Linked DNA regions of Homo sapiens. The protein of the gene in region 1 interacts with the protein of each later gene in a pairwise test. Each region holds a gene or a part of one and is shown in the gene's direction. Other genes may lie near its edges. The genes, in order: MEOX1, TRIML2, EIF4EBP1, MORF4L1, CNOT11, RBM5 and RAD52.

Region 1 (3,895 bases):
ATTGTATGGATATACCAAATTTCTTTCTTCTTTTTTTTTTTTTTGAGACGGAGTCTCACTCTGTTGCCAGGCTGGAGTGCAGTGGCGCGATCTCGGCTCACTGCAACCTCCGCCTCCCGTATTCAAGTGATTCTCCTGCCTCAGCCTCCCAAGTAGCTGGGACTACAGGCACACGCCACCACGCCCAGCTAATTTTTGTATTTTTAATAGAGACGGGGTTTCACCATGTTGGCCAGGATAGTCTCAATTTCTTGACCTTGTGATCTGCCTGCCTCAGCCTCCCAAAGTGCTGGGACTACAGGCGTGAGCCACTGTGCCCGGCCACCAAATTTCTTTATCCATTCATCTGTTGATGAACATGTAGGTTGCTTCCACCTCTTGGCAGTTGTGAATAATGCTGCAATGAACATGAGTGTGCAAATACCTCCTGGAGAGTGTATTTTCTTTTTCTTTTTCTTTTTTGAGACGGAGTCTCACTCTGTCACCCAGGCTAGAGTGCAGTGGCGCGATCTCAGCTCACTGCAAGCTCCGCCTCCCGGGTTCATGCCATTCTCCTACCTCAGCCTCCCGAGTAGCTGGGACTACAGGCGCCCACCACCACGTCTGGCTAATTTTTTGTATTTTTAGTAGAGACGGGGTTTCACTGTGTTAGCCAGGATGGTCTCAATCTCCTGACCTCGTGATCCACTGGCCTCAGCCTCCCAAAGCACTGGGATTACAGGTGTGAGTCACTGCACCCGGCTGGAGAGTGTATTTTCAATTCTTTTGAGTGTATACCTAGAAGGGAAATTGCTATATTATGTAGTAATTATATTTTTAATTTTCCAAAAAAATTATTTATTATTAGAATAAAATATAGAGACAGGGGTCTCGCTATGTTGGCCAGATTGGTCTTGAACTCTTGGCCTCAAACAATCCTCCTGCCTCGGCCTTCCAAAGTGCTAGGATTACAGGTGTGAACCACTACACCTGACCATATTTTTAATTTTTCCTTTTTCTTTTTTTTTGAGACAAGAGTCTTGCTGTTGCTCTGGCTAGAGCACAATGGCGTGATCACGGCTCACTGCAATCTCTGCCTCCCAGGTTCAAGTGATTCTCTTGCCTCAGTCTCCCAAGTAGCTGGGATTACAGGCGTGTGCCACCACACCTGGCTAATTTTTGCATTTTTAGTAGACAGGGGTTTTACCATGTTGGCCAGGCTGGTCTCGAACTCCTGACCTCAGGTGATCCGCCCGCCTTGGCCTCCCAAAGTGCTGGGATTACAGGCATGAGCCCCTAATCTCCCCTTCTTATAAGCATATCAGGCAGATTGGATTGGGACCCACCCTAACAGCCTCATTTTAACTTAATCCCTTCTTTAAAGGCCCTATGTCCAAATACAGACACACTCTAAGGTACTGGGGTTAGGGCTTCAACATAGGAATTGGGGAGGGAAGCACAATTCTGCCCTTATAGGGACTGTACAGGACTGTACGGGGACAGGAACAAGGGACAAGGTTCAAACTGTGGCACAGACCCTTCAGTTGAAAACCCCTTTAGTGAAAGCAGCACCCAGATGTGTGCCTGACCCCAGAGCTTTCCTAGCTCAGGGTCCTGTCGGCTGGTAGAGCTTTTCCACTGAGACAGGAAGTTGTTTCTAGCCACAAGCAGATCCCTGATTTCCTATCTTACACCAACAAGTACAGACATAAAAAGTGGAGGCAGTTGGCCGGGTGCGGTGGCTCACGCCTGTAATCCCAGCACTTTGGGAGGCCGAGGTGGGCGGATCATGAGCTCAAGAAATCAAAACCATCCTGGCCAAAATGGTGAAATCCCATTTCTACTAAAAATACAAAAATTAGCTGGGCGTGGTGGCATGCGCCTACAGTCCCAGCTACTCAGGAGGCTGAGGCAGGAGAATCGCTTGAACCTGGGAAGTGGAGGTTGCAGTGAGCTGGATCACACCATTGCACTCCAGCCTGGGTGACAGAGCCAGACTCTGTCTCAAAAAAAAAAAAAAAAAGTGGAGGCAGTTTTAGGAGTGAATCTCTAAAGAAGGGAGCTGTTTGACAGAGGAAAGGAGAAAAGAGGCATGGGCTGGATGCGGTGGCTCACGCCTGTAATCCCAGCTATTTGGGAGGCCAAGGTGGGTGGATCACTTGAGGTCAGGAGTTTGAGACCAGCCTGACCAACATGATGAAACCCTGTCTCTACTAAAAATACAAAAATTAGCTGGGCGTGTTGGCTCACACCTGTAGTCCCAGCTAATCAGGAGGCTGAGGCAGGAAAATCGCTTGAACCAGGGAGGTAGAGGTTGCTGTGAGCCAAGATCGTGCCACTGCACTCCAGCTGGGGAGACAGAGTGAGATTCCGTCTCAAAAAAAAAAAAAAAAGGCAATGGTAGGCTGGGCACGGTGGCTCACACCTGTAATCCCAGCACTTTGGGAGGCTGAGGCTGGTGAATCACGATGTCAGAAGATCGAGACCATCCTGGCTAACACGGTGAAATGCCATCTCTACTAAAAATATAAAAAAATTAGCCAAGCGTGGTGGCAGGCGCCAGTAGTCCCAGCTACTTGGGAGGCTGAGGCAGGAAAATGGCGTGAACCTGGGAGGCACAGCTTGCAGTGAGCCGAGATCACACCACTGCACTCCAGCCTGGGCGACAGAGTGAGACTCCGTCTCAAAAAAAAAAAAAAAAAAAAAAAAGCAATAGTAGAGATGAGAATGAAATAAATGGACAACCCCAATAAGTGTCACCTGGGTCGCCAGAGTGATGCCAAGTCCCATACAAGTGACCTCATGCCCATGCTCACCTTCTTGCTGGGCCACGGTACAGTAATAGGAGGAAGGGTGGTCAGAGACTAAGGTCAAGCGAATTAACAAGGTAGCCCTGGTTCAGGTCCCTGATCCACAACTTCCTGGCTGTGTGGACGTGGGTGAGTCCTAACCCTCCCTGAGTCTCTTCTGAGAAATGAGGGTAACAGTACCTACTTCATAAGGTGGGTAGCTGTGAGACTAAATGATATCAGAGATGTAGAGTCCACAGCCAACACTTGGTAACCCCTGGCTCCAGTTTTCCCAAACCCACATATGAGCACCCCTCTCTCTTTAAAGTCCTCCCCTGATGCTGGCTGGCTGCATCAGGTTTCCCACGTTCAAAAACAGGCCAAAGTGTCCTGAGCTCTGCTGAAGTCTTTGCCCCCTGCTGTCAGCCGGGCCTGCCTGACTCTGACGATGCTACTGGCTTAGGGTTGTGGCAGTGCTGGGTGGGGTGTGGTTTGAGGGGTGCACCGCTGCAGCAGCTCCTCTTGTCCCGAGTCCATGTCCAGAACCCCTAGTGAGGAAGAAGTTTTATGGTCCAGAGTGGCCAGCGTGGGAGGGGAGACAGCAACTCCACACTCAGCCAGTATCCCTCTGGGCATCCCCGGCCTCCTGATTAGAGCTCCTGACCTCCTCTTCTGACAAGCAAAGAAAGCTCAGAGCCCAAAGCAGGACCCAGGCCTCGGCCACCATCTGAACTCAGAGGCTCCAGCACAAATCCCACGCCTGGGCCTGCTCAGGCCCCTGATCAGGTATAGTCGGAAACTCTGGAGAAAGTCCGTTTCTGCTGAGGCAGCAGGATCCTGACCAACATCGAAGAGGGAAAGATCCAATGAGCCCGTGAGCTGTAAGAAGGTCAGCCCAGGGGTCACCTCAGCTCTGCTCCGCCACTCTCCCATGCTAGGGACTCAGGATTCCTGCCCGCTCACCTATTTCTCTGGCTTGAATAAATCACGGGCACTTGGGCCCAGGGAGGGGGGATAACTCAGAGGCAGAGAATCCTTTCTGCCTGAGAGACAGGACTCACAGCCCCTGCAGACCTCCAGAGCTGGCCCTTTTCCCCAACTCCCTCTCTGCCCATAACTTGGGCTTC
Region 2 (4,617 bases), on another chromosome or scaffold:
AATTACTTAATCCCGTGACTTAATCTCTACGTCATCTACTTCATCAGCTGCAGATGTACCTCACGGGGTTGGAGCATGCAACAGGTGGGGCATGTAACAGTAAATAAGGGTTTAGCACACTTTTTTGTAATGTTTTTAGAATTATCTTAAAATATTGACTCTTCTAGAATTAATAATTTAATTATTAATAAATATTTATTTAATAGTAAAACAGGCTTTAATAAGTATTTATTTAAGCATTTAATACTCTAAAACAGGCTTTAAGAGACTTCAAAACCTGACAATATGCTTGATGTTTATTTTCCATTTGATTCAAAGATTACAAAGTTTTCTTGTCAAGATGAGTAAGCTCAAGAGTTATGAAAGCTCAAGGGATGGTGAGAGTAAATGACAGAGTATCTGACAACAAGTATGTGTGAGTATCTTCACAGACGTTGGCCGTACCCAGGCTTAGAAGAGAAAGGAAGATTGGATTAGAAAAATAAGAGAAGTAAAGGAGGATGGACTGGCTGAGGAGGGGAGGGGGCACAGGAATAAATGTGGTCTATTTGAAGAAAGCTGGGGAATTGGGTTTTGGAAAAGAGAGTGGGTGTAGGTAATCATCTGAGATAAGAGAAAGGGTGTATGGCCAGGCGCGGTGGCCAGAACTTTTGGAGGCCAAGGAGGGTGGGTCACCTGAGGTCAGGAGTTTGAGACCAGCCTGGCCAACATGGTGAAACCCCATCTCCACTAAAAATACAAAAATTAGCTGGGTGTGGTGGGCGCCTATAATCCCAGCTACTCGGGAGGCTGAAGTGGGAAAATTGCTTGAACCTGGGAGGCGGAGGCTGCAGTGAGCCGAGATCGCTCCACCGCACTCCAGCCTAGGCAACAGAGTGAGACTCTCATCTAAAAAAAAAAAAAAAGAAAGAAAAAAGAAAAAGAGAAACGGTGTATTGAGATTCCATAAGGTAGAACCAGGTTCTGAAAGATCAGATAAGCAAAGCAGAAGAATTCTCATTATCCTGTCAGCAGCATAAAGAAAAAAACTCCCTGGTTTGATTAGCAGGGGATTGACTGACTGATGCAATAAAAACCCTCGGGGACAAAACTATAAAACTTAGAAAGCTGTGAAGAGTTCCTCCTCACTGAAGCCAAATATCAAGTATGAATTATCTGGGATTGTTCCCTGACCTCCCATCTGTGACAGATTCCATAGGCAGTTATCCCTACTCTTGGTTTTTCTTTCCACAGATACTGGAATGAACACTTCTCCAGCAAACGTTCTAGAAACTAACAAGTCAGGCATTATTTTCTACTAAGGAACAAACACAGTCTTGAGTGTTAGCTCGAAGGCTTCTTTCCTGTGAAATTGTCAATATACACTAGATTCATTAAGAAAGAAAACCCCAAACCTTAAGGAGCTAGAGGTGTTAGGCACTGTACATGGCACTGGAGATAAAACAAGATATTTATCCAACCAAGGTCAGGGCTATTAAGCATTTTCTGGGAGTCCATTAAAAATGTAAATTACGGACCCCACCGTAGATTTCTGGAATCAGAGACCCTGTGAAGAGGCTTGCGTTTTAATAAACTCAGGTGGTTCTAATGAGATTAATTGTGTGAATATGATAAGAAACTTCACAGACGCCTTCCTGATGGTGTGAGGGCGGGGCTGAGGGAGGAATTGAACAGATAAAATCTCTTCAGTCTCCACTGTTCCAGCTTTTTCCCTAAAGGAAATACCTTGGTTCGGTGTGGTGACTCATTCCTGTAATCCCAGTACTTTGGGAGGCTGAAGCAGGCAGATTGCTTGAGCCCAGGAGTTCAAGACCAGCCTGGGAAAAATACTGAAACCCCGTCTCTACAAAAAATACAAAAATTAGCCGGGTGTGGTCGTGCAGCGCCTGTAATCCCAGCTACTCAGGAGGTCAAGGTGGGAGAATCACTTGAGCCTGGGAGCTCGAGGCTGTAGTGAGCCGAGATTGCGCCACTGCATTCCAGCCTGGGTGACAGAGCAAGACCCTGTCTCAAAAAAAAAAAAAAAAAAAAAAAAGGAAATACCCAGGATTGCTACAAAGAAAGTAAGTGAGATTTTCTCTATAGATCATTTTCTTAATAATTGTTTCTTTAGATTTCTAAACTTGATCTTAGAATCTATGTGTGTGTGTGTGTATCTGTGTGTTATCAGGAAAAAGCCTGAAGAAAAATATTAGGAAAAACAAAATAAGGGTAGACAACATGCTGGGGACTTAATTCGTCAATTTTCCTTTGCTGTTTCTGTAAAAATATTTAGTCTCTGTCCCTCTCTCATTACACCTTCAATTTTTACTGGTTTAACATAAAATATCGTTTACAATATTTATTGTGCATCGAGTATGTCAGATGTAGACACAGGGCATCTCAAGGACTTAGTTTCTTATGGATGGAGAGTGACCCACAAGTAAACTTGTTCATAGAAAGATAAAATCTTTTCGCTACTAAGAAAATAAAATAAGGAGATGAGTAGTGGGAAGGTATTTCAAATTGAGTAGTGATGGAAAGGTCTCTCTTGGGAAGACATTTGAGCTGAGAACTGAAGAGAAGAAAGAAGAGGCAGCTGGAATTGCAAAAATATGAGAGAAGAGCTCTGTTGGCCACGGAAGGGGGAAGGGCTGTGATGAATTAGAGGCAGCTAGATTGACAGTGATGGGGGAAAGCTATAGAGAGATCAGAAGAAGGCAGGAGGCCAGATTGTATAGGACGGGGTTATTACCCACTTCGATCTTACTCTAATGCCATAGAAAGTGACCACAAACCTGCTCACTTGGTTTTGGTTTTAAAATAGTATTCTGGTGGTTGAGCAGAGAGGAGCTGGAGATGGACGAGGAGGGCAGGACAGAATATAAATTTGGAAAACAATAGTTGAATTGGTGAAAGGAAGGCTTAAACTGTGGCTCTAAAGGAATGAGTTTGGGGGAAGAGAGCCACTGGGTTGAGATCCTGAGCGGCTTTAGATATGTTAATTTTGAGTGCTCCTTAGACATTCTATTGCAAAAATGTTGGGAATTGGGCAGGAGATTGAAATCGGAGAATGGAACTTAAATCTTCAGAAACGAGTAAGATTACCTAGGGAGAGACCAGGACTGGGAGACCAGAACTCAACCTTGAAGCACCCCAAGATTGAGAGGTTCAGAGGATGTGGGACCAGAAAAGGCCACGGAGAACAAGACCAGACAAGTTAGAGGAATGTCAGCTGCAGACAGATGAGAGAAGAAAACATTCTAGGAAGAAGGGTGTGGTCAGCTATGTTAACTGCTGCTGAGAGCTCAAGGAAAAATTTGAGTTGGTGAATTTCTTTGTTTTGGTGACTCAGTGGAGTCATCTCGGACATGTTCAGGGACCTAAGACACGGGAAACCAGCAGGGATTTCAAAGACCTAAGCAGAAGAAAGGATGAGAGCATCAAAAACAAGGAAGGAGGGAGAAAGTATTTGCAACTCACACAATTTACAGGAACTTGGATCTATAGCTCTCTCTTAAAATTGACCCCTCCCTCCAAAAAGGCCAAACCTGATGGAATAAACTGAGAGAGAGGCTTGAACATAGACTTCACAGCAAAAGAAGTGAAAATGGTTTTTTAGCATATGAAAATAAAAGGCTTAGACATATTAATAATATAACAGATGGAAGTTGAAAATATATGAATACACTATTTCTCACCCAGCCAGTGGGCAATGATCCAAAAGTTTAACATCTTTTTAATTTGTTGCTTGGAGTGCAAAATTGTACAACTTTTGTGCTTGGGAAACTGACAAAACATATCAAAATTATGGATGCATTCATTCACAGTCCTATTTGTGGGGAATATGCCTTTTCAGGCCAAGATTCTCAACTTTTTGGAATCAGTACTCCTTTGCACTCATTATTGACGAAGATCCCAATAAGCTTTTGTTTATGAGCGTTAATATCTATGTTTACTGTATTAGAAATTTAAAACTGCATTTTATAGTTATTCATTTAAAATAATAAAAACAAGCCAGGCACGGTGGGTCACACCTGTAATCCCAGCACTGAGGCTGAGGCGGGCAGATAACCTGAGGTCAGGAGTTCCAGATCAGTGTGGCCAACACGGTGAAACCCCGTCTCTACTAAAAATACAAAAAATTAGCTGGGTGTGGTTTCACGCGCCTGTAGTCCCAGCTACTCGGGAGGCTGAGGCAGGAGAGTCGGTTGAACCCGGGAGGCGGAGGTTGCAGTGAGCTGAGATCGTGCCACTGTGCTCCAGCCTGGGCGACAGAGATTCGGTCTCAAAAATAAATAAATAAGTTAATAAAATAATAAAAACAAAAACATTTTTCTGAGAAAAAAGTTTTCGAGCTAAGTGGCTTTTTTAATAGAGAAAGCCAGAATTACAAAGGACTTAAGAAGGACATTGGGGCCCTTCTTCTTGCCAAAGATGGGCACAACGTCGACAAAGCGCCGGTGGTACCGCACCCGCGGCTCAGCCCGGCCTGTCTTCTCGCTTGGCCACCTTAGCAAGAGTCTGACCTGTCACTTTCCCAGCGCGGGCCGGGGAACCACGGACTTGGCCTCCCGGGCAGTCGGGGCCTCCCACTTCGCCCTGGTCCAGGGTGGCCTCGCCCTGCAGGGACGCGCC
Region 3 (3,895 bases), on another chromosome or scaffold:
TAATTTTTGTATTTTTTGGTAGAGATGAGGTTTCGCCATGTTGCCCAGGCTGGCCTCAAACTCCTGAGCTCAAGTAATCCACCCGCCTTGACCTCCCAAAGTTCTGGGATTAGAGGCATGCTCCACTGTGCTTGGCCTGGGAAGGCACAGCAATATTGAAAAAAAGGAACATTGCTTTCTAAGGTGAGTTTTAAAAAAAAAAAATGTTCAGTTGTGCACATAGATTCTTGCCTGTGCCAACAAACCCATGAAAAACCTGTTTCTTTCTGGTCTGACTTAGACCCATGCCTGGGGTCTCTCTCCATTATGATTCATAGCGAATGAATCACACGTTTTTGTTTACGTGTTTGTTCCCTAGGTTAGCCAGGAAATTTTTTCTGAGCAGTCTTACTCATCTTTGTATCCACATGACCTAATGCCAGGTCTAGTGTCTGGAAGGTGAAGAGTTGAAAAGAATGCTGGAATGAAAGCGTTCCCCTCAGGATAACCTAGTTTTCTTATTTTATTTATTTATTTATTTTTGAGACTGAGTCTTGCTCTGTCGCCCAGGCTGGAGTGCAGTGGCATGATCTCAGCTCACTGCAACCTCCACCTCCCTGGTTCAAGTGACTCTCCTGCCTCGCCTCCTGAGTAGCTGGGATTACAGGCACGCACCACCACACCCAGCTAATTTTTGTATTTTTAGTAGAGACGGGGTTTACCATGTTGGCCAGGATGGTCTCAATCTCCTGACCTTGTGATCCACCCGCCTCGACCTCCCAAAATGCTGGGATTACAGGCGTGAGCTACCATGCCTGGTCAGGATAACCTAGTTTTCTTACTGTCAGGCCTGAGTCTCCGCTGGCTTAATGATGACGTTTAAATTTCCTTTTCTGTCCTTTCAGTTGCAGGGTATAAGTGTTTATCTCAGAATGTCCCAGGGGCAGAAACTAACTTTCTCTGTTTTGATGATGTTGTCTGTTTTTTGTTTGTTTGTTTTTTGAGACAAAGTCTTACTCTGTTGCAGGTTGGAGTACAGTGGCACGATCATGCCTCACTGCAGTCTCAACCCCCTGAGCTCAGGTGATCCTTTTGCCTCAGCCTCTCCAGTAGCTGGGACTACAGGCACACACCACCACGCCTGGCTAATCTTTAAATTTTTAGTAGTGACAGAGTTTTGTCATGTTGCCCAGGCTGGTCTGGAACTCCTGGGCTCAAGAGATCCACCACCTCAGCCTCCCAAAACACTGGGATTACAGGCGTGAGCCACTGGACCAGCCAGAGAATAACCTTCTCTGAACCCTCCTACTTATCCTCATACAGATAGTCCCCGATTATGATGGTGTGACTACAATTTTTGACTTTACGATGGTATGAAAGTGATATGTGTTCAGTAGGAATTGTACTTTTAAAAATTGTTTTAAGACAGATTCTTGGCCGGACACGGTGGCTCATGCCTGTAATCCCAGCACTTTGGGAGGCTGAGGTGGGTGGATCACGAGGTCAAGAGATAGAGACCATCCTGGCTAACATGGTGAAACCCCGTCTCTACTAAAAGTACAAAAAATTAGCCAGGTGTGGTGGCACACACCTGTACTCCCAGCTACTCAGGAGGCTGAGGCAGAAGAATCGCTTGAACCCGGGAGACAGAGGTTGCAGTGAGCCGAGATCACGCCACTGCACTCCAGCCTGGGAGACAGAGCAAGACTCCATCTCAAAAAAAAAAAAAAAGGCAGAGTCTTGTTCTATTACCTACATTAGAGTGCATTGGCATGATATCGGCTCACTGCAACCTCCGCCTCTCAGGCTCAAGCAATCCTCCCACCTCAGTCTCTCAAGTAGCTGGGATTACAGGTGTGCGCCACCACGCCCAGCCTAGAAATTGTACATTGAATTGTGAATTTTGATCTGTTTCTGGGCCAGCGATACGAGGTACATGCTCTCGAGATGCTCAGCAGGGACAGTGAGCTGCAGCTCCCATTTAGCCCCACAAACATGAGGACAAATGGCCAGTCACAAGCTTGTCCAACCCGAGACCCTCAGGCCACATGCACTCTGGACAGCTTTGAATGAGGCCCAATACAAGTCCGTAAACTTCCTTAAAACATTATGAAATTTCTTTCTTTTTTTTTTTTTTTTAAGCTCAGCTGGAGTGCAATGGCACAATCTCGGCTCACTGCAACCTCTGCCTCCCAGGTTCAAGTGATTCTCCTGCCTCAGCCTCCTGAGTAGCTGGGATTACAGGCACGCGCAACCACACCCAGCTAATTTTGTATTTTTAGTAGAAATGGTGTTTCTCTATATTGGTCAGGCTGGTCTCGAACTCCCAAGCTCAGGTGATCCGCCCACCTCGTCCTCCCAAAGTGTTGGGATTACAGGCGTGAGCCACCACACCCAGCCAGTGTTAGTGTATTTTATGTGTAGTCCAAGACAATTCTTCTTCCAGTGTGGCCCAGGGAAGCCAGAAGATTGGACAGCCCACTATAGAGTCTATAGTGTGCTGTGTTGCCAGGTGGTTTTGTCCAACTGTAGGCTAATGTAAGTGTTCTGAGCACATTTAAGGTAGGGAAGGCTAAGCTATAATGTTCAGTAGGTTAGGTGTACTAAATACTTTTTTTTTTTTTTTTTTTTTGAGTTGGAGTGTTGCTCTATCGCCCAGGCTGGAGTGCAGTGGTGCAATCTCTGCTCACTACAGCCTCTGCCTCCCAGGTTCAAGCCATTCTCCTGCCTCAGCCTCTTGAGTAGCTGGGATTATAGGCGTGTGCCACCACACCCAGCTAATTTGTATTTTTAGTAGAGATGGGGTTTCACCATGTTGGCCAGGCTGGTCTCAAACTCCTGACCTCAAGTGATCTGCCCGCCTCAGCCTCCCAAAGTGCTGGAATTACAGGCGTGAGCCACTGCACCTGGCCCTAAATGCATTTTTGACTTAAGATATTTTCTATGTATGGTGGATTTATTGGGACATACTTCATTTTAAGTCAAGGAACATTTGTATTAAACAGTATTGCTGGTATTTCTTGTCCCAATATTACCGAACAGGGAGTGGATGTGACTTTTTTTCTTTTTTTTAAAAAGCAAAAACAAAAAACTTTTAACAGATAGGGCCTCACCTCTGTGGCCCAGGCTGGAGTGTCTATGGGCTGAAGTACAGTGGCGCGATCACCACTCACTGTAACTTTGAGCTCCTGGGCTCAAGCAATCTTCCTGCCTCAGCTTCCCGAGTAGCTGGGACCACAGGCACATGCTACCACACCTGGCTAATTTTTATTTTTTGTAGAGATGAGGTCTATGTTGCCCAGGCTGGTCTTGAACTCCTGGCCTCAGGCAATCCTCCTGCCTCAACCTCCCAAAGCATTGGGATTACAGATGTGAGCCACTGCATCTGGCAACTTTTTCTTACACTGAACAAGCCAGTATTGGGGCCGGGGTCTCAGACACTGTGACTGATGCTGTTTATTTACCTGTTTGCATCCAGCATTGCTGACAAGGCAAGAGTAAGTAACTGCTGCTCACTGACATTTGGGTATGCACAGCAAAGGGCTCCATGTAATCTGATGGTTATGCCCATGAAAGCTCATTAAGAGAGCTCAGATACTAGGCCCAGAGGATCAGGGCTTCTTAGGTGTGCAGGGACACTTGGTGAAAATGGTTGTATCAGTTAGCTATTGCTATATAACAAGCCATCCCCAAACAGTAACTAAACAGCAGCGATTTGTTATTGTTCTCCATCTTTTGGGTTCGTTGGGTTCTTTGTAGATCTTGCTGAGCTTACTCATATGGCTGCATACAGTGTACAGCTGGACTGTCCTGGGGTGGAAGCTCCAAGATGGTCTTACCCATACATCTGGGGCATTGCTGGGGACAGCTGGAAGCCTGGGAGTTCCCTCTATCCTCTTGGTCTCCCAACATTCTG
Region 4 (3,895 bases), on another chromosome or scaffold:
AGTGGGTAAAGGATTGAGTGTGAAGACTATTGGTTTCTCTTGGTCTCCACATATTGACACGTGCAAGTAAAGTTCATGGTTGACTTTGACCGAGAAATACAGTCCAACAGATTTTTACAAAACTAACAGACAAGAGAAAACCTATACACAGATTTTTGTGTTTATATCCAAACATAAGTTAATTTGAATTGTCAAACCTTAAGACCTAAATTAAATGAATATATTTAATTAATAACATTTATAAGTATTATTTAAAGCTACAGAAAAGTAAAAAATCCAGGTGTTATAGTATCTTTCCATCGAAAGTAATCCATAATCATGGGCTCTATAAACTGTTTCCTTTGTGGTCTAGAAATAATAATGTAAAAAAGCAAAATTAGGCCAGGCATGGTGGCACACGCCTGTAATAGCATTTTGGAAGGCCGAGGTATGCGAATCACTTGAGGTCAGGAGTTTGAGACCAGCCTGGCCAACATGGTGAAATCCCGTCTCTTAAAATACAAAAATGAGCTGGGAGTGGTGGTGGGTGCCTATGGTCCCAGCTACTTGGAAGGCTGAGGCAGGAGAATCGCTTGAACCCGGGAGGAGGAGGTTGCAGTGAGCCGAGATCACCCAACAGACAGAGCAAGACTCCATCTCAAAATAAATAAATAAAGCAAAATTAGCAATTTACCATTTGACAGTATATAAGTGACGTGAGGTAAGTTGCTGTTAGAGATGATAATCAAGATGAGGAGACTTAAAACAAAAAAATTACACAAATCTAAAAATATTTTGGGGAACAAAAATAATTGGAAAAAAATTTTAACCTTTGACACCTTTTTTTTTTGGTGGGCCTAATAATGTAGTATATACTATAACATATATTAATATAACCCTGGAAGAACGAAGTTGTTTACTAAAGTGTTCTTGGTTTGCTTTTCTTTTTTTTTTGTCTTTGAGACAGGGTCTCTGTCACCAAGACTGGAGTGCAGTGGTGCAATCAAGGCTCACTGCAGCCTTGGCCTCCTGGGCTCAAGCAATCCTCTCACCTCAGCTTCCCAAGTAGCTGGGACTATAGGCGTTTGCCAGTATGCCCAGTTAATTTTTGTATTTTTTATAGAGAACAGGATTTGCCATGTTGCCCAGGCTGGTCTGGAATTTTGAGCTCTAGAGATCCACCCCCTCTTCACCTCCCAAAATGCTGGGATTACAGGCATGTGCCACTGCGCCTGGCTTGGTTTATTTTTTTCTATTATGTGGAGAGAGATGGGAATTTAACCAACTATCAATAAAAATCCTTGTGTCTGAGTAGGACACATATTTACCACCTGATCCTTTATCCAAGTTAGTATTTCTCTGTGAACTTAACCCTGATAAAGGGAGTTGAAACAGAGGCAGTTTTACTGGAAATAATTATTTTTCTTTTTTTTCTCTCCTTTTAGGAAAACGAAAAAGAACAAACAGAAAAGTAAGAATATTAACTTTCTTAACGTTAATTTATGTTACCTCTATGACATTGACGTTTTTATTTTGAAAGCTATGAAATTTTGGAGTAAGCTTATGTTTATTGATTATCTCAAATAGGAGTCTCACAGCAGTGTTATAAAATAGGTACATGGTGGTAGAGACCTCTTTTTGCCAAGGAGAAACTTGTGAGCATTTATTTTCATCTGCTTTAGTCTTAATGTCTCCCACTGAGAAGATAACATTTATAAATAAATGGAAGATGGTGATACTAAATGTTGTCTATACTAAATGTTCGGTAGAGCTCTTCATGAAAGTTGTATTTTTGGTAGGAATATGATTCTTTAACTTAGATTGAGGTAACAGCTGTGTAATGGAGAAATAATGAAAAGGGTTAATGTGTCAAGAGACTATTTTCCTTATAGAGTTTGTTAAATTAGCTAAATGAGACCCCTCCCCGCCAACATTTACAGCACCTGGAAATGGAGATGGTGGCAGTACCAGTGAGACCCCTCAGCCTCCTCGGAAGAAAAGGGCCCGGGTAGATCCTACTGTTGAAAATGTGAGTTTTTCTTGTGTTTATGAATAGCATGTTAGGATTTTTAGTCTCAGTTACATGACATAACCATGGGAGCTTTGATTATCTACAAGATTTGCTTACATGGTTAATACCTGAAATTAAAAATTTTCTCTTTTGGGGGTAAAGGATAAATTTCTGTATATCTTTATTTCACCTGTAGCTCCAGATTTACCTACCCAATTGATCATTTGTTGTGTAAGCTTCATGTTCACCTACAAGACTATTTCTTTGGTGTTACGTATTTATTTTTAGGAGTTAAAGATGTACCTTTAAGATGGTTGTGTTTGGAATAGTTTTGATATCCATGGTAAATAAGAAAATACTAAGTTAAAATGTATCAAGTCAGGGTGTTTCATTTCCTGAACAAGAGGAACCTTACTGAAGAATTTTTACCTTTACAAGAAAATGCACTAAATAGACTATAGTTCAGGTCAGATTCTTTTCTCCCAACAGCGAACCGCGTATGGTCGTTTTTATTAATGATTTTAAAAAATGACAGTACAGCTGTATGCTTGGCTACTTTAAGATTTATCCCTAGTGCCTCTAAAAGTCAGCTCCCCTCCATGTTTGGTATTTAGCAAGAAAGGTTAGGTTTTTAATACTCCTCCTGTTTCTGTTTAGGAGGAAACATTCATGAACAGAGTTGAAGTTAAAGTAAAGATTCCTGAAGAGCTAAAACCGTGGCTTGTTGATGACTGGGACTTAATTACCAGGCAAAAACAGGTAACTTGAAAAGCTACCCAGATTGTTAAGCTATATGATACATTCTTGCTAGCAAAAAAAGTTTTTAAAGGAAAATGTTATATTGACTTGAATTATTAAGGTATGACTGATAAAATAATATTTTAATTTAGAGGCTGAACACTTTAGAACTACTACCAGAAAGAGTAAGTTAGAAGAATAAAAGTTCACATATAAATTTTATGAGGTTATAATGATAAAGGTGGAAATAACTCATTTTTGGAGATTGCTAGGGCAGGAACTCGTTCTGAAAATTCATAAAGGTGAAGAAGCATATGTCTTACTGTCATTGCTAATGGTAGGCCATAGAAAGCACACACCACCACCTGCAAGGTATTCATGACCCTGAAAAGAACCTGAATCTTACTAAGCGCCTGGATCTATTGTTAGTTTGCAGGAAATAGGATGTTTAATGGAGTGACATGTTTGTCAATCGTTGAACTCTATAATTGAGAATTTTATAGGACAAATGAAGCTATTTGAACAAATGGCATAGGTAGGGTTAGGGATAGTTGGGGGAGATGATTAGGGACTGCTTGAGGATTATGAGACTTAAGAGACCTATCAGTCATATACAGTATGTGGATATAGTTTGAATTCTGATTTGAATCCTTTGGAGGGTTATGCAGTTACAGCTAAACTGCGAAGATTCAAGCATGGCTGTATCACTTATTATTTGTGAGTTTGGACAAGTTTCTTAGCCTTTTTGTGCTTCTGTTTTTGCATTTAATGGAATAATAGTTTGTATTTGACAATGCTGATGAGAGGACGAAAAGATAATTATTTTAATGCTTTAGACTAGATCTAGCAAATAGTATGCATAACAGTAAATGATGACTTGGTAGTACCACAAAGGCACATTCGTGTCTGTTATGTGTGTGTGACAGATTGACATTTTTAAAAGCTGTGCTGTTCTGTCTAGTAGAGTCTCATTTGGCTGTTTAAATATATAGATGCTCCATAACTTAGAATGGGGTTACATCGCAATAAACCCAGCAGAGAGTTGGAAAATTAAGTCCAAACCATTGTAAGTTGGGAACTGTCTGTAGTTTCTCAGCCACATTATCCATGTTTTAAGTGCTGAATAGTATCTTTCCTAATTTGAAATACTGTTACTGTTACCTGATC
Region 5 (3,929 bases), on another chromosome or scaffold:
TGAAAAAAATTTTTTTTACATAAAATATCTTTCTCCCCAAAAACACATAAAATAAAATAAAAATATGTTTTAAAAAAGAATTGAGGTGGCTCTTAACTAGATAATTAGAATCGCTGGTGGTAATCACTGGCGAAATACGCGTACGTTTCTGTAGGTTTAGGGACCGGGCAAGTCTGGGAAATGCCACCTGGTGGTTCTCAGCCCAGACTACACCTCAGACTCACCTGAAGAGGTGGGGTTTATTAATATCTCAATCAGCATCTCTGGGGGTGGAACTAGGTATTTGTAACGTCTCCCCGTGGGTTTCTAATGCACAGCTAAGTGCCCAGGATAAGTGCCCTAGGGCAATCTAAGTAAAACGTGGCACAGCAAACAATTTTGTAAATGAATATTAACTGGAGACATGTTCTCGAAATCATGTTAAGAGAAAAAACCATGTACAAAAAAGCTCATAGTGCAGTATGATTCCATTTCTGCAATGAGTGTAAGACTAGAAATTAACCGTGGTTATGTGAAATGTGTGGTATATTTGCATTTACTAAATTAAAAAAAATGTTTCTGAGACAGAGCGCCCGGGCTGCAATGCAGTGGTGATCACAGCTCACTGCAGCCTGGGACTCCCGGGCTCAAGCGACCCTCCCGCCTAGGACTCTCAAAGTGCTGGGATTACAGGCACGCGCCACCACGCCCGGCCTGCATTTACAATACTTTTTACGACGAATACTTACGGATGTTATATTAAGAAAATAGTTAACATCTGAGGTGCATTCTTCCAAATAATAACGTAGACAGCACTTACTGGGACCGTCTGGCACCAGGAACCGTCCTGGGGACCGCCAAAGGGCGGCTTAACCTCGCAGCTGCGCAGACGCATGCAGTCCCCGGGCTCTCCTGCCGCGGGACCTCGGCAGACCTAACCCTGAACGCCACCAGCCCGACCTCGCCCCGCCCCTCCCCTCCCTTCCCGGGCCCCGCCCCCGCTTCCTGCCAATTCGCCCCGCCTACCCCGCGTCTCCGCATCCTCTTCCTGGCTTCGCTCCATCAGCCTCGCTTTCGCTGGGCGCTGTCCCTCTCCGCGGCGGTCTGGTTTCCCCGACGTGTTTTGTTTGCGACGCTGTCGTGTAACAGCGCGCTTTACGGCCGCGGGGACGGAGCGAGCCGGCGCCAGGGCCCCTCGGGCCGGGAAGAGGGGAAGGGGAGCGAGGTTGATGCCCGGCGGAGGGGCGAGCGCGGCGTCTGGCCGGCTTCTCACCGCCGCGGAGCAAAGAGGGTCCCGGGAAGCGGCAGGGTCGGCGTCCAGGAGCGGCTTCGGGGGCTCCGGCGGCGGCAGAGGCGGAGCAAGCGGCCCCGGGTCCGGGAGCGGAGGCCCGGGGGGCCCCGCGGGCAGGATGAGCTTGACCCCGAAGGAGCTCTCGAGCCTGCTGAGCATCATATCGGAGGAGGCGGGCGGCGGCAGCACCTTCGAGGGCCTGTCCACCGCCTTCCACCACTACTTCAGCAAGGCCGACCACTTCCGCCTGGGCTCGGTGCTCGTCATGCTGCTCCAGCAGCCCGACCTGCTGCCTAGCGCGGCGCAGCGCCTCACGGCGCTCTACCTGCTCTGGGAGATGTACCGCACCGAGCCGCTGGCCGCCAACCCCTTCGCCGCCAGCTTCGCGCACCTGCTCAACCCCGCGCCGCCCGCCCGCGGCGGCCAGGAACCCGACCGCCCTCCGCTCTCAGGTACCTCCTGAAGCCAGCTGTGCCGTGTGGATAGCGTTAGATTCCGCAGCTTTCCACCTGCGCTGCTGGGAACTCACCTGAAAGGGAAATTAACTATCCCTGTGAAATGATCATCCTCTTTTTCCGCCTCTCTCTGCGTTCCCACGCCCCTCACTCCTCCCCGCCTTAACTCTAAAGAATGGAGAGGTGGTAGCTTAATTGCAAGTTCGTGACACCGAAAATGATTTCTCTATACACCCCATCACATCATACAGCTCAGTGTAGGTCTTGACATGTTTAGTGTCTCAAATACGGTTCGTTCTTCGAAAACCCGTCTGTGGTGTGTGAAGTTAAAACCAATGATAAGACTGGATCTGTCCCCGGTTTTTAGTCTCAAAGGAGTACGTGGAAGTCAGTATTAAGAAGCTGAAGAAGTTGGTGGGCGGAAATACACATGAAACACCTTAAAGACTTTGCAGCCGCCTTTCTTAGCCTGTTAGGGATGGGGGCAGAGGATAGAAAGTCTCAAATTGATGATCTCGCGTTTGGAAACACATGACTTACTGGACATTATGTAAAGTGCATACGTGGTATACATTATGTAAAATGTATTTACTATTGTGTGGCATTGGTGAGATCAAACTAGTAGGTTAGATGCGAGGCTGCATTTTTTTTTGTTTTTAAGCTCAAGCAGGTGATGCTTTATGTGGATTTGCTTTGCGAGAAGACTTGCAGTCAGAAAACAAGAAAAATGGCATGTTGACAACGGGACCTGAAGGATTTAGGAACCAGTGTAGTGGAGGAAGCACACAGAGATAGGAAACAGCTTGATCTTACATTCCTTAACCAGTATAGGTAGGGCCTGCTATACAGTGAGTCAAGGCTAGGCAGTAGATTTTGAAGTAACACCAGGAGTTTGTTTTTATGGTACAGGAGGGCCGCGTTTCTAGTTAGTGTTCCTGCCGGGCATCCCATCAGGATCTTCTGATAGGTGTCCTGTAGTGCCCTTATCTAAGAAGGGCAACCCTTTGTATTGGCCTGAGATGCCTTTAGGGTACAGGTACTTAACCTGCTTCTAAGAAGCTTGTGACTGCCCAGAAAGTGAATGTAACACAGGTTTGTGGTCAAAACTCACCACCTAGGCCTGGCTAGGTGGCTCACGCCTATAATCCCAGCACTTTTGGAGGCCGAAGTGGTGGAGGTTGGGGGGTGGGAATTGCTTGAGGCCAGGAGTTTGAAACCATCCTGGGCAACATAGTAAGATCCTGTCTTTACAAAGCAATAAAAAATTTGCTGGGCATGGGGTGGCTAACACCTGTAGCCCCAGCTGCTCAGGAGTTTGAGGCAGGAGGATCACTTGAGCCTAGGAGTTTGAGGCTGCAGTGAGTTAGGGTGACAGCTTCTAAACACACACACACACACAGACAACCACCACCCTAGGGTGCTTGTATTAGAGGATTGGGACACTGGGATTTAGATCAGAGGGCCCTTTGAATTCTGAAGAACAAGTGAGGCAAAGAAACCGTGACTTATATAATGTCATTCTCATGTACAGTGAATCTAAACCCACACCTAGTCCGTAGACCGCATTATACACACAGATTTGCCATAGGTGGGATGGCAGTCACCAGAGAAGGAATCCATGGATGGATTATATTTAACCATTTTGTGCCTCAGATTCCTCATCTGTAAAATGCAAATAGTAACAATTCCCAGCTGGTAGAGTTGTTACAAAGAATAAAAGTACCTGTGAGTGGGCTGGGCGCGGTGGCTCACGCCTGTAATCCCAGCACTTTGGGAGGCCGAGGCGGGCGGATCACAAGGTCAGGAGATCGAGACCATCTTGGCTAACACGGTGAAACCCCGTCTCTACTAAAAATACAAAAAATTAGCCGGGCGCGGTGGCGGGCGCCTGTAGTCCCAGCTACTTGGGAGGCTGAGGCAGGAGAATGGCGTGAACCTGGGAGGCGGAGCTTGCAGTGAGCCAAGATTGTGCCACTGCAATCCGGCCTGGGCTAAAGAGCGGGACTCCGTCTCAAAAAAAAAAAAAGTACCTGTGAGTGTTACCCACTATTATACCATTATTAAAGTAGGTAGGGATGGTGTGTAGATAACATAGAAGAGAAAATATCAGTGCCTACACTCCACTCCCAGAGCTGCTGATATTGTATGTTTAGGGTAAGACATTTAGTGGGTATGTCTTCAGAATGCTTTTCAGATGACTCTGA
Region 6 (3,696 bases), on another chromosome or scaffold:
CACCCTGTGTGTGGTTGCCTGGTATCCAATGGATTCTATGTGGATGGGCCCAATGATGAGCTGTTGTCATGGCAGATGTCTGAACTCCATGACACGCCCACCTGTTCTGGCTGCCTGGTTTATGTAAATAGTCTGTGGAACAGAGTGAGACAAATTGCTCTTTGGGTGCCCTCTAGGTAGGCCCAGGGATTAAATTAATGGGAACTAGACTTTTTAAATTTTTATTATCATTTTTTTTGAGATGGAGTCTTACTCTGTTGCCCAGACTGGAGTGCAGTGGCATGATCTTGGCTCACTGCCACCTCCTCCATCTCCCAGGTTCAAGCAGTTCTCTTGCCTCAGCCTCCTGAGTAGCTGGGATTACAGGTGTGCCATCATGCCCAGCTAATTTTTGTATTTTTAGTAGAGATGAGTTATCACCATGTTGGCCAGGCTGGTCTTGAACTCCTGACCTTGGGTGATCTGCCCACCACCACCTCCCAAAGTGCTAGGATTACGGGCATGAGCCACTGCTCCCGGCTGGGAACTAAACTTTTTAAAGAAATCATATTCTATTTTTACTCTAGCAGTGTCACACCTCTTTGCTAGGTGGTTCATCACCTTTACTTATACCAAGGTGTGCCCAGGGTCTTTTCTGGGCAGGAAATATCACTAGTCCACAACATACTTTATCTTTTTTTTGACAAAATATGTAATCGACTGACATAGCAGAAAGTCTGCATTAATTGTTTTTTGTTTGTTGTTTTCTAGTACTACTATAATTCCTTGACCCAGCAGTACCTTTACTGGGATGGGGAAAAAGAGACCTACGTGCCAGCTGCAGAGTCTAGCTCCCACCAGCAGTCGGGCCTGCCTCCTGCAAAAGAGGGGAAAGAGAAGAAGGAGAAACCCAAGAGCAAAACAGCCCAGCAGGTTAGAACATGACCCATATTTCTTTCATTGAGGTATTGGGCTGAACTCTTAGTTTTGGGGTTGTAGCATTTATGTCAGTATTATTTGGATTCTTAAAAATTGGGCTTCACATTTTATTCATACTAAGTTCTTAGAGCATTTTGCAATTTGTTATTGTTACCATATCTTGACTGTCAGCCTGTGTACTTAGGGAAAAAAGCCCTGGAAATCTCAAAGCTTTTCAAGCAGTATTTATGAATGACTTTGGTTATATGTGATAACATCTAATGGAAATATTTGTAGGTGGAAGTAAGAGTAAAAGGGGTTTGTTACAGGGCATATAGTTGAGATAAGATCCTTAATGGCTCATTCTCATGGCACAGGGGATTAAATATTTTTTTGTTGGTGTTTGTTGTTTGACATTAGATTGCCAAAGACATGGAACGCTGGGCTAAGAGTTTGAATAAGCAGAAAGAAAACTTTAAAAATAGCTTTCAGCCTGTCAATTCCTTGAGGGAAGAAGAAAGGAGAGAATCTGCTGCAGCAGACGCTGGCTTTGCTCTCTTTGAGAAGAAGGTAATAGCAGGAATGGCCAGTATGTCATGATGGGAACTTACCTAAAACTTGAGTCTCATGGCTTGTCCTCTGTTTCCCAGGGAGCCTTAGCTGAAAGGCAGCAGCTCATCCCAGAATTGGTGCGAAATGGAGATGAGGAGAATCCCCTCAAAGTAAGGGAGTACCACCAGTGTTTTAAAGACCCTATCTGTGGTTTGTGTCTCACTTTAAGGCTCAACTGCATCTTGGCTAATGTGATTCCTACTTAAAACTGAATGTGATCACTGTTGATGGGTATTGGAGCAGTTTCTGCACATAGATTCCATGTCGGGGCTTTGTTTTCTGTGAGAGCAGATGAGATGGAGTGATGAAAGAAGCTTCAATTCCTAAGCTCAGTTAATTAAGTTTCATTGCATCTGTGAGTGGAGAGTTTTAATGGTCTGGAAAGAGAAAATTAAGACAAGAAAAAGCTTGTTTTACTAGATAGATACTGGTCTGGGTGGGCCATTATTCTGATATGTTGTATTTGGGATTTTTATTTGTGGTCAGTGGTTTGAAAATAGTCACTCAGTCTAGGCAACATTGCAAGACTTCGTCTCTACTGAAAATTAGAAACAAATTAGTTGGGTGTGGTGGCTTGCATCTGTACTCCTAGCTACTTGGGATGCTAAGGTAAGAGAATTGCTTGAGCCCAGGAGATCAAGGCTGCAGTGAGCCACTGCACTTTTTGGGGATCATACCATTGCACTCCAGCCTGGGCAGTGAGCAAGACCCTGTCTCATTTAAAAAAAAAAAAAACAAAAACAGTCTTGGCACAGTGGCTCACACCTGTAATCCCAGCACTTTGGGAGGCCAAGGCAGGCGGATCATTTGAGGTCAGGAGTTCGAGATCAGCCTGACCAATGTGGTGAAACCCCATCTCTACTAAAAATGCAAAAGATTAGCCAGGGGTGGTGACAAGCGCCTGTAATCCCAGCTACTTGGGAGGCTGAGACACTTGAATCACTTGAACCTGGGAGGTGGAGGTTGCAGTGAGCTGAGATTACGCCACTGCACTCCAGCCTGGGCAACAGAGCGAGACTCCTTCTCCAAAGAAATAGAAAAAGGTAGTCACCCAGGAATCCATTTCTTAGGCTCCAAGAAGGTTGGTACCAGGAGGCTGTCAGGCCTAGCACTCAAGGACCTGACTGCTCCACGCAGTTGACAAAATGTGATTCATTACTAAAGTGTGACATGCAGTAATGGGGATTTGTTAACATTTCGGATGAGGCATTACTTTATCCAGGTACATAGCCACCGCCATCTTCCTATTGTACATTTCCAGTGACCTGTCCTCCTTTTGTCTCCAGAGGGGTCTGGTTGCTGCTTACAGTGGTGACAGTGACAATGAGGAGGAGCTGGTGGAGAGACTTGAGAGTGAGGAAGAGAAGCTAGCTGACTGGAAGAAGATGGCCTGTCTGCTCTGCCGGCGCCAGTTCCCGAACAAAGATGCCCTAGTCAGGCACCAGCAACTCTCAGACCTTCACAAGGTGGCCATGCTTCTGAGCTGATCTGAGGGGGCGAGGGGAGGCAGTGAGACAATTTGAGTGCCCTAACAGTCCTGACGGTTCCAAAAATACCTGCCATCTAATGATGGCCTTACAGAAAGCTGTTCCCGATGACAGTGGACGGAGTCTGGCAGCTCCACACACATCAAACTATAGTTTTTATGTGATTGTGTATTGTTTGGGCTTTGGCTCTTAAAGTACAGTAGATGTTACTAATGTTAGGACATTTCAAATTAAGATGGTCTGAGTCCTTACTGTGTCTTTCAAATCTTTTGTGTAGCAAAACATGGACATCTATCGACGATCCAGGCTGAGCGAGCAGGAGCTGGAAGCCTTGGAGCTAAGGGAGAGAGAGGTGAATGGGAAACTGTGCCACAAGGAAGAGGATATTGGGATAATTGCCTTTAGCTTTTATTTGTAGCATTTAGTTCCAGATCCCAGGGGCAGGGTAGGAGGATTTGTCATACCCTTGTCATCTGACCATTGTAGTTCATGTAGCCTAGACCCAGCCTCTGTGTGCCTTGTGAGCCTCACATTGTCCCTTCATCATAAGGGTGCACAAGGCAGAAGCACACTGCCGAGACTCTCTCACAGCAATGCCAGAGCTTGCTGCTTAAATACGCTGGATTTTGTTATGGAGAGAGTGGTCTAGTTTGGCCTGGCCAGGGAAGCCTTCATGGGCAAAGAAGTGCGCTTCAAATTA
Region 7 (3,895 bases), on another chromosome or scaffold:
TACGTTTACCTAGTACGTGTGTGAGCAGTACCTAGTACGTTTACCTAGTACGTGTGTGAGCAGTACCTAGTACGTTGACGCGGTGCGTGCGGGGGCAGTACCTAGTACGTTTACATAGTACATGTGTGAGCTATTTGTTATTGGTTTTTCCTTTAGATGCATTTTTTGGGAGTCTTGTGAACTCTGGAGGGCATTTTGGAATGTTAGCTATCAAAAGACTGATAGTACTGGGGATTAGATTTAGATTTTAAATTTTTTGTGGGGGGGGATAGATAACATATTTGTATGACATCAAATTCAAAATGAAACTGTGAAAATCTCCCTATTTCCTATTGCCCCTGTGTGCATGCCACCCAGTTCTATTTCTTTTTTTTTTCGAGACTGAGTCTTGCTTTGTCACCCAGGCTGCAGTGCAGTGGTGCGATCTCAGCTCACTGCAACTTCCACCCTCTGGATTCAAGCAATTCTCCTGCCTCAGCCTCCCAAGTAGCTGGGATAACAGGCATGCACCACCATGGCCAGCTAATTTTTATATTTTTAGTAGAGATGGGGTTTAACCATGTTGGCCAGGCTGGTCTCGAACTCCTGACCTCAGGTGATCCGCCTGCCTCGGCCTCCCAAAGTGTTTGGATTACAGGCGTGAGCCACCACGCCCGGGCTTAATTTTTTTGTATTTTTAGTAGAGATGTGGTTTCACCATGTTGGCCAGGGTAGTCTTGAACTCCTGACCTCGTGATCTGCCTGCCTCGGCCTCCTAAATGCTGGAATTACAGGCATGAGCCACCGCGCCTGGCTCCAGTTGTCTTTCTTGGAGGCATGGAAAGTTACTGGGGGTCCTATTCCTTGTAGGGACATTGTGTGCACAGAAAAGAGTTTCTTGCTTTGTCCACCCAAACTCCATCTTTGTCTTTAGCAGAGAGTTGTGAGTATTCATCTCATCTGAGCAGGGCAAGGGGGACAAAACCCAAATCAGCAAGCAGTAGTGTGTTTCTGTTTGTGCAGGATGGGAAATTGTTGTATTGGAGAAGGCGTCAATCTCTGGAAAGGACAAATGGAAGCAAGGCTTCCTACCCCCGTGCTCTTTCCGTACTTGCTTCCTGTGCTGACGTCATTTACAGATCTGGAGGCAGAACATTTTAGCTTCCTAAGCTTCAGAAACATTTATAAGGATGGTAGCAGCAGCTAAGGCAGCAGTTCTCAAAATGCAGTTCTCAAAAACCCTGGGGTTTCTGAAGATCTTTCAGAGTCCAGAAGGTCAAAATTATCTTCATAATAATACTATTTGCCTCTTTCACACTCATTGTCTCATGAGTGAATGGTAGAGTTTTCAGAGAGTGCATGATATGTGGTGATGTCACTGCTATGATGCCTAATGGCATGCATGCCTTAAAAGTTTCTCAGTTTTGATTCCTAATAGGATACATAGAACCCACATAAACAAAGGTTCTGGGGGGTCTTTTTAAGAGTATAAAGTCTCCATAAAGGATGGAGACTCAATGATGTGAGGAATGGTGGAAGTGTGAATTTAATTTTCTTTTTTGGGGTTGCAGTGCCAGTACACAGCAGAAGAGTACCAGGCCATCCAGAAGGCCCTGAGGCAGAGGCTGGGCCCAGAATACATAAGTAGCCGCATGGCTGGCGGAGGCCAGAAGGTAGGAGAATTCATGTGCCTGGAAAGCAGGCATCCATACCGCAGACTCCGATGGTCTTGCCAGTTCCCTCTCTGGGTCCTCAGGGATTCGGAAGTCTGCTGTTAACTGTTCCTGGAGGTCTCCCAGTGCCCCTGGGAGGGGATGGGTTCCAGACTTCATTCTCATCCGAAGGGGCCTGGGCATGGTCTTGACACTCGCATAACCGCCGTCTTAAGATTTTTACATCATCTTTTTTTTTTTTTATTTTTAAAGACAGGGTCTTGCTCTGTCACCTAGGCTGGAGTCCGACCAGTGGTGTCATCTCAGCTCACTGCAGCCTCCACCTCCCAGGCTCAAGCGATCCTCCTGCCTCAGCTTCCTGACTAGCTGGGACTACAGGCACACGCCACCACACCTGGTTAATTTTTTAATGTTCTGTAGAGACGACATCTCGCCATGTTGCCCAGGCTGATCTCGAACTGCTGGGCTCAAGTGATCCTCCCACCTCGGCCTCCCAAAGTGCTGGGATTACAGGTGTGGGCCACCATGCCCAGCCTTTACACCATTAAAAAAAAAATGTTCCTTTTGCCATTTGCTTTTTTTTTTTAATTAAACACTTTTTAAAGAACTTATGATTGACACATAATAATTGCATATCATTTGCTTCTAATTTTAACTTCTGTGTATATTTTTGGTCTTCCATAAAATATGTCAAACAGATTTGTACTTTTTGCAAACTGAATTTTAGCAACTGCTGGGTGAGTTCCTCCTCCCAACAGACCATTCGTTCTCGCGGGCTCCATCTAGAAGATTTTTGAAATAAATTCATTGAGAATTTTCTTGAAAAAAAAATTTTTTTTAACAGACTGGTTCTCACTCTGTCACTTAGGCTGGAGTGCAGTGGCACGATCCTAGCTTACTGCAGCCTTGAGCTCCTGGGCTCAAGTGATCCTCCCACCTCAGCCTCCCGAGAAGAATGTTTAAGGACAGTTTATCGAAAAAAGTAGATGAGGAATAAATTATGTCAATTTTGATTCACATTTAAGTGTGGTAAGGAATTAACACAGCTTTTCCTTAAAAACATTTGTTTTTCTAGGTGTGCTACATTGAGGGTCATCGGGTAATTAATCTGGCCAATGAGATGTTTGGTTACAATGGCTGGGCACACTCCATCACGCAGCAGAATGTGGGTGAGTATGCTCTCCAGCAGTGGGGACTTCTGCACTGTCCAGCTCCTGCTGAAAGTCTGCTGTGGGTGAGGAGGTAAGGTAGGTGGACTCAGCTGCCAGCAGGAGGAATGGTTGTGGCCCAGCGGTCAGTGTCCTCTTCAACTTGCTCTCTTTCCCACTCCTAGATTTTGTTGACCTCAACAATGGCAAGTTCTACGTGGGAGTCTGTGCATTTGTGAGGGTCCAGCTGAAGGTGAGGGGATGGAGTAGACCTGCTGCCCGGAAGGATCAGTGGGTGGTAGGAGAAGGTGAGCAGGTAGGGAAGTAGGTAGCTGGACGGGGACCCAGGCTCCAGAGTTGTGTCTCAGCCAGCGTTCCCTAGAGTGGTGGAATTCAAATACTCTTGCTCATGTGCTCCCTAAAAGAATGGAAAAACTGTTCTCTTGCACATGTTCAAGCTGACACCTAAAAGTTTTCACCATATATAAAAATTGTTGCAAAGGATGTATTTTTTGGCATATGGTAAAATCTGACATTTTAAAATACAATAATTTTACCATCACTGATAAGTGTTTGGAAACTCAACTTTAGGCAAAGCAGGTCCTTTTGTTATAACATTGATGAAAACAAAAATATGTTTTGTTAATAAGTTGTTTCACTTCAAGTCACAGTTATTTAAGGTGTTAAGTGAGCACTTACCGTAAATCTGTTGAATCTTGTTAAATATTCCAGTGGACTCTAAATACTATAGAGGATAAGATCTATCATTTATTTGAAGAAATACAATGAACAAGCTTTTTTTTAATCATTAGAAATTTTACATTGTTCTTTCTTTATCTGAACTCATATTTCTATTCTATTTCCCCACTGGTTTTAATCCTAATACATATTTATGGTTGAAAGTTTGGCTAGGCGGGGTGGCTCATTCGTGTAACCCCAGCACTTTGGGAGGCCCAGGTGGAAGGACTGCTTGAGCCCAGGGATTTGAGACCAGCCTGGGCAACATAGCGAAAGCCCGTCTCTACTAAAAATACAAAAAATTAGCTGGGCATGGTGGTGTATGCTTGTAGTCCTAGCTACTCAAGAGGCTGAGGT

What was found.
Region 2: the proteins of MEOX1 (region 1) and TRIML2 interact in binary tests that used the Homo sapiens proteins (3 or more experiments, as listed by UniProt).
Region 3: the proteins of MEOX1 (region 1) and EIF4EBP1 interact in binary tests that used the Homo sapiens proteins (3 or more experiments, as listed by UniProt).
Region 4: the proteins of MEOX1 (region 1) and MORF4L1 interact in binary tests that used the Homo sapiens proteins (3 or more experiments, as listed by UniProt).
Region 5: the proteins of MEOX1 (region 1) and CNOT11 interact in binary tests that used the Homo sapiens proteins (3 or more experiments, as listed by UniProt).
Region 6: the proteins of MEOX1 (region 1) and RBM5 interact in binary tests that used the Homo sapiens proteins (3 or more experiments, as listed by UniProt).
Region 7: the proteins of MEOX1 (region 1) and RAD52 interact in binary tests that used the Homo sapiens proteins (3 or more experiments, as listed by UniProt).

What each region holds. Positions count from the first base shown.
Region 1 is NC_000017.11:43,651,619-43,655,513, reverse strand, and holds part of MEOX1 (homeobox protein MOX-1), read left to right. Parts: intron 1-3,895. UniProt on the Homo sapiens protein: Mesodermal transcription factor that plays a key role in somitogenesis and is specifically required for sclerotome development. Required for maintenance of the sclerotome polarity and formation of the cranio-cervical joints.
Region 2 is NC_000004.12:188,106,689-188,111,305, reverse strand, and holds the start of TRIML2 (probable E3 ubiquitin-protein ligase TRIML2), read left to right. Parts: upstream 1-1,702; 5' UTR 1,703-2,063; intron 2,064-4,617.
Region 3 is NC_000008.11:38,036,813-38,040,707, forward strand, and holds part of EIF4EBP1 (eukaryotic translation initiation factor 4E-binding protein 1), read left to right. Parts: intron 1-3,895. UniProt on the Homo sapiens protein: Repressor of translation initiation that regulates EIF4E activity by preventing its assembly into the eIF4F complex: hypophosphorylated form competes with EIF4G1/EIF4G3 and strongly binds to EIF4E, leading to repress translation.
Region 4 is NC_000015.10:78,889,565-78,893,459, forward strand, and holds part of MORF4L1 (mortality factor 4-like protein 1), read left to right. Parts: intron 1-1,424; coding exon 1,425-1,450; intron 1,451-1,919; coding exon 1,920-2,008; intron 2,009-2,647; coding exon 2,648-2,749; intron 2,750-3,895. UniProt on the Homo sapiens protein: Component of the NuA4 histone acetyltransferase (HAT) complex which is involved in transcriptional activation of select genes principally by acetylation of nucleosomal histones H4 and H2A.
Region 5 is NC_000002.12:101,251,757-101,255,685, forward strand, and holds the start of CNOT11 (CCR4-NOT transcription complex subunit 11), read left to right. Parts: upstream 1-1,129; 5' UTR 1,130-1,208; coding exon 1,209-1,722; intron 1,723-3,929. UniProt on the Homo sapiens protein: Component of the CCR4-NOT complex which is one of the major cellular mRNA deadenylases and is linked to various cellular processes including bulk mRNA degradation, miRNA-mediated repression, translational repression during translational initiation and general transcription regulation.
Region 6 is NC_000003.12:50,112,633-50,116,328, forward strand, and holds part of RBM5 (RNA-binding protein 5), read left to right. Parts: intron 1-750; coding exon 751-912; intron 913-1,317; coding exon 1,318-1,467; intron 1,468-1,547; coding exon 1,548-1,619; intron 1,620-2,795; coding exon 2,796-2,975; intron 2,976-3,273; coding exon 3,274-3,348; intron 3,349-3,389; exon of another isoform or gene 3,390-3,696. UniProt on the Homo sapiens protein: Component of the spliceosome A complex. Binds to ssRNA containing the consensus sequence 5'-AGGUAA-3'. Regulates alternative splicing of a number of mRNAs.
Region 7 is NC_000012.12:928,977-932,871, reverse strand, and holds part of RAD52 (DNA repair protein RAD52 homolog), read left to right. Parts: exon of another isoform or gene 1-31; intron 32-66; exon of another isoform or gene 67-1,550; coding exon 1,551-1,652; intron 1,653-2,727; coding exon 2,728-2,821; intron 2,822-2,985; coding exon 2,986-3,053; exon of another isoform or gene 3,054-3,108; intron 3,109-3,895. UniProt on the Homo sapiens protein: Involved in double-stranded break repair. Plays a central role in genetic recombination and DNA repair by promoting the annealing of complementary single-stranded DNA and by stimulation of the RAD51 recombinase.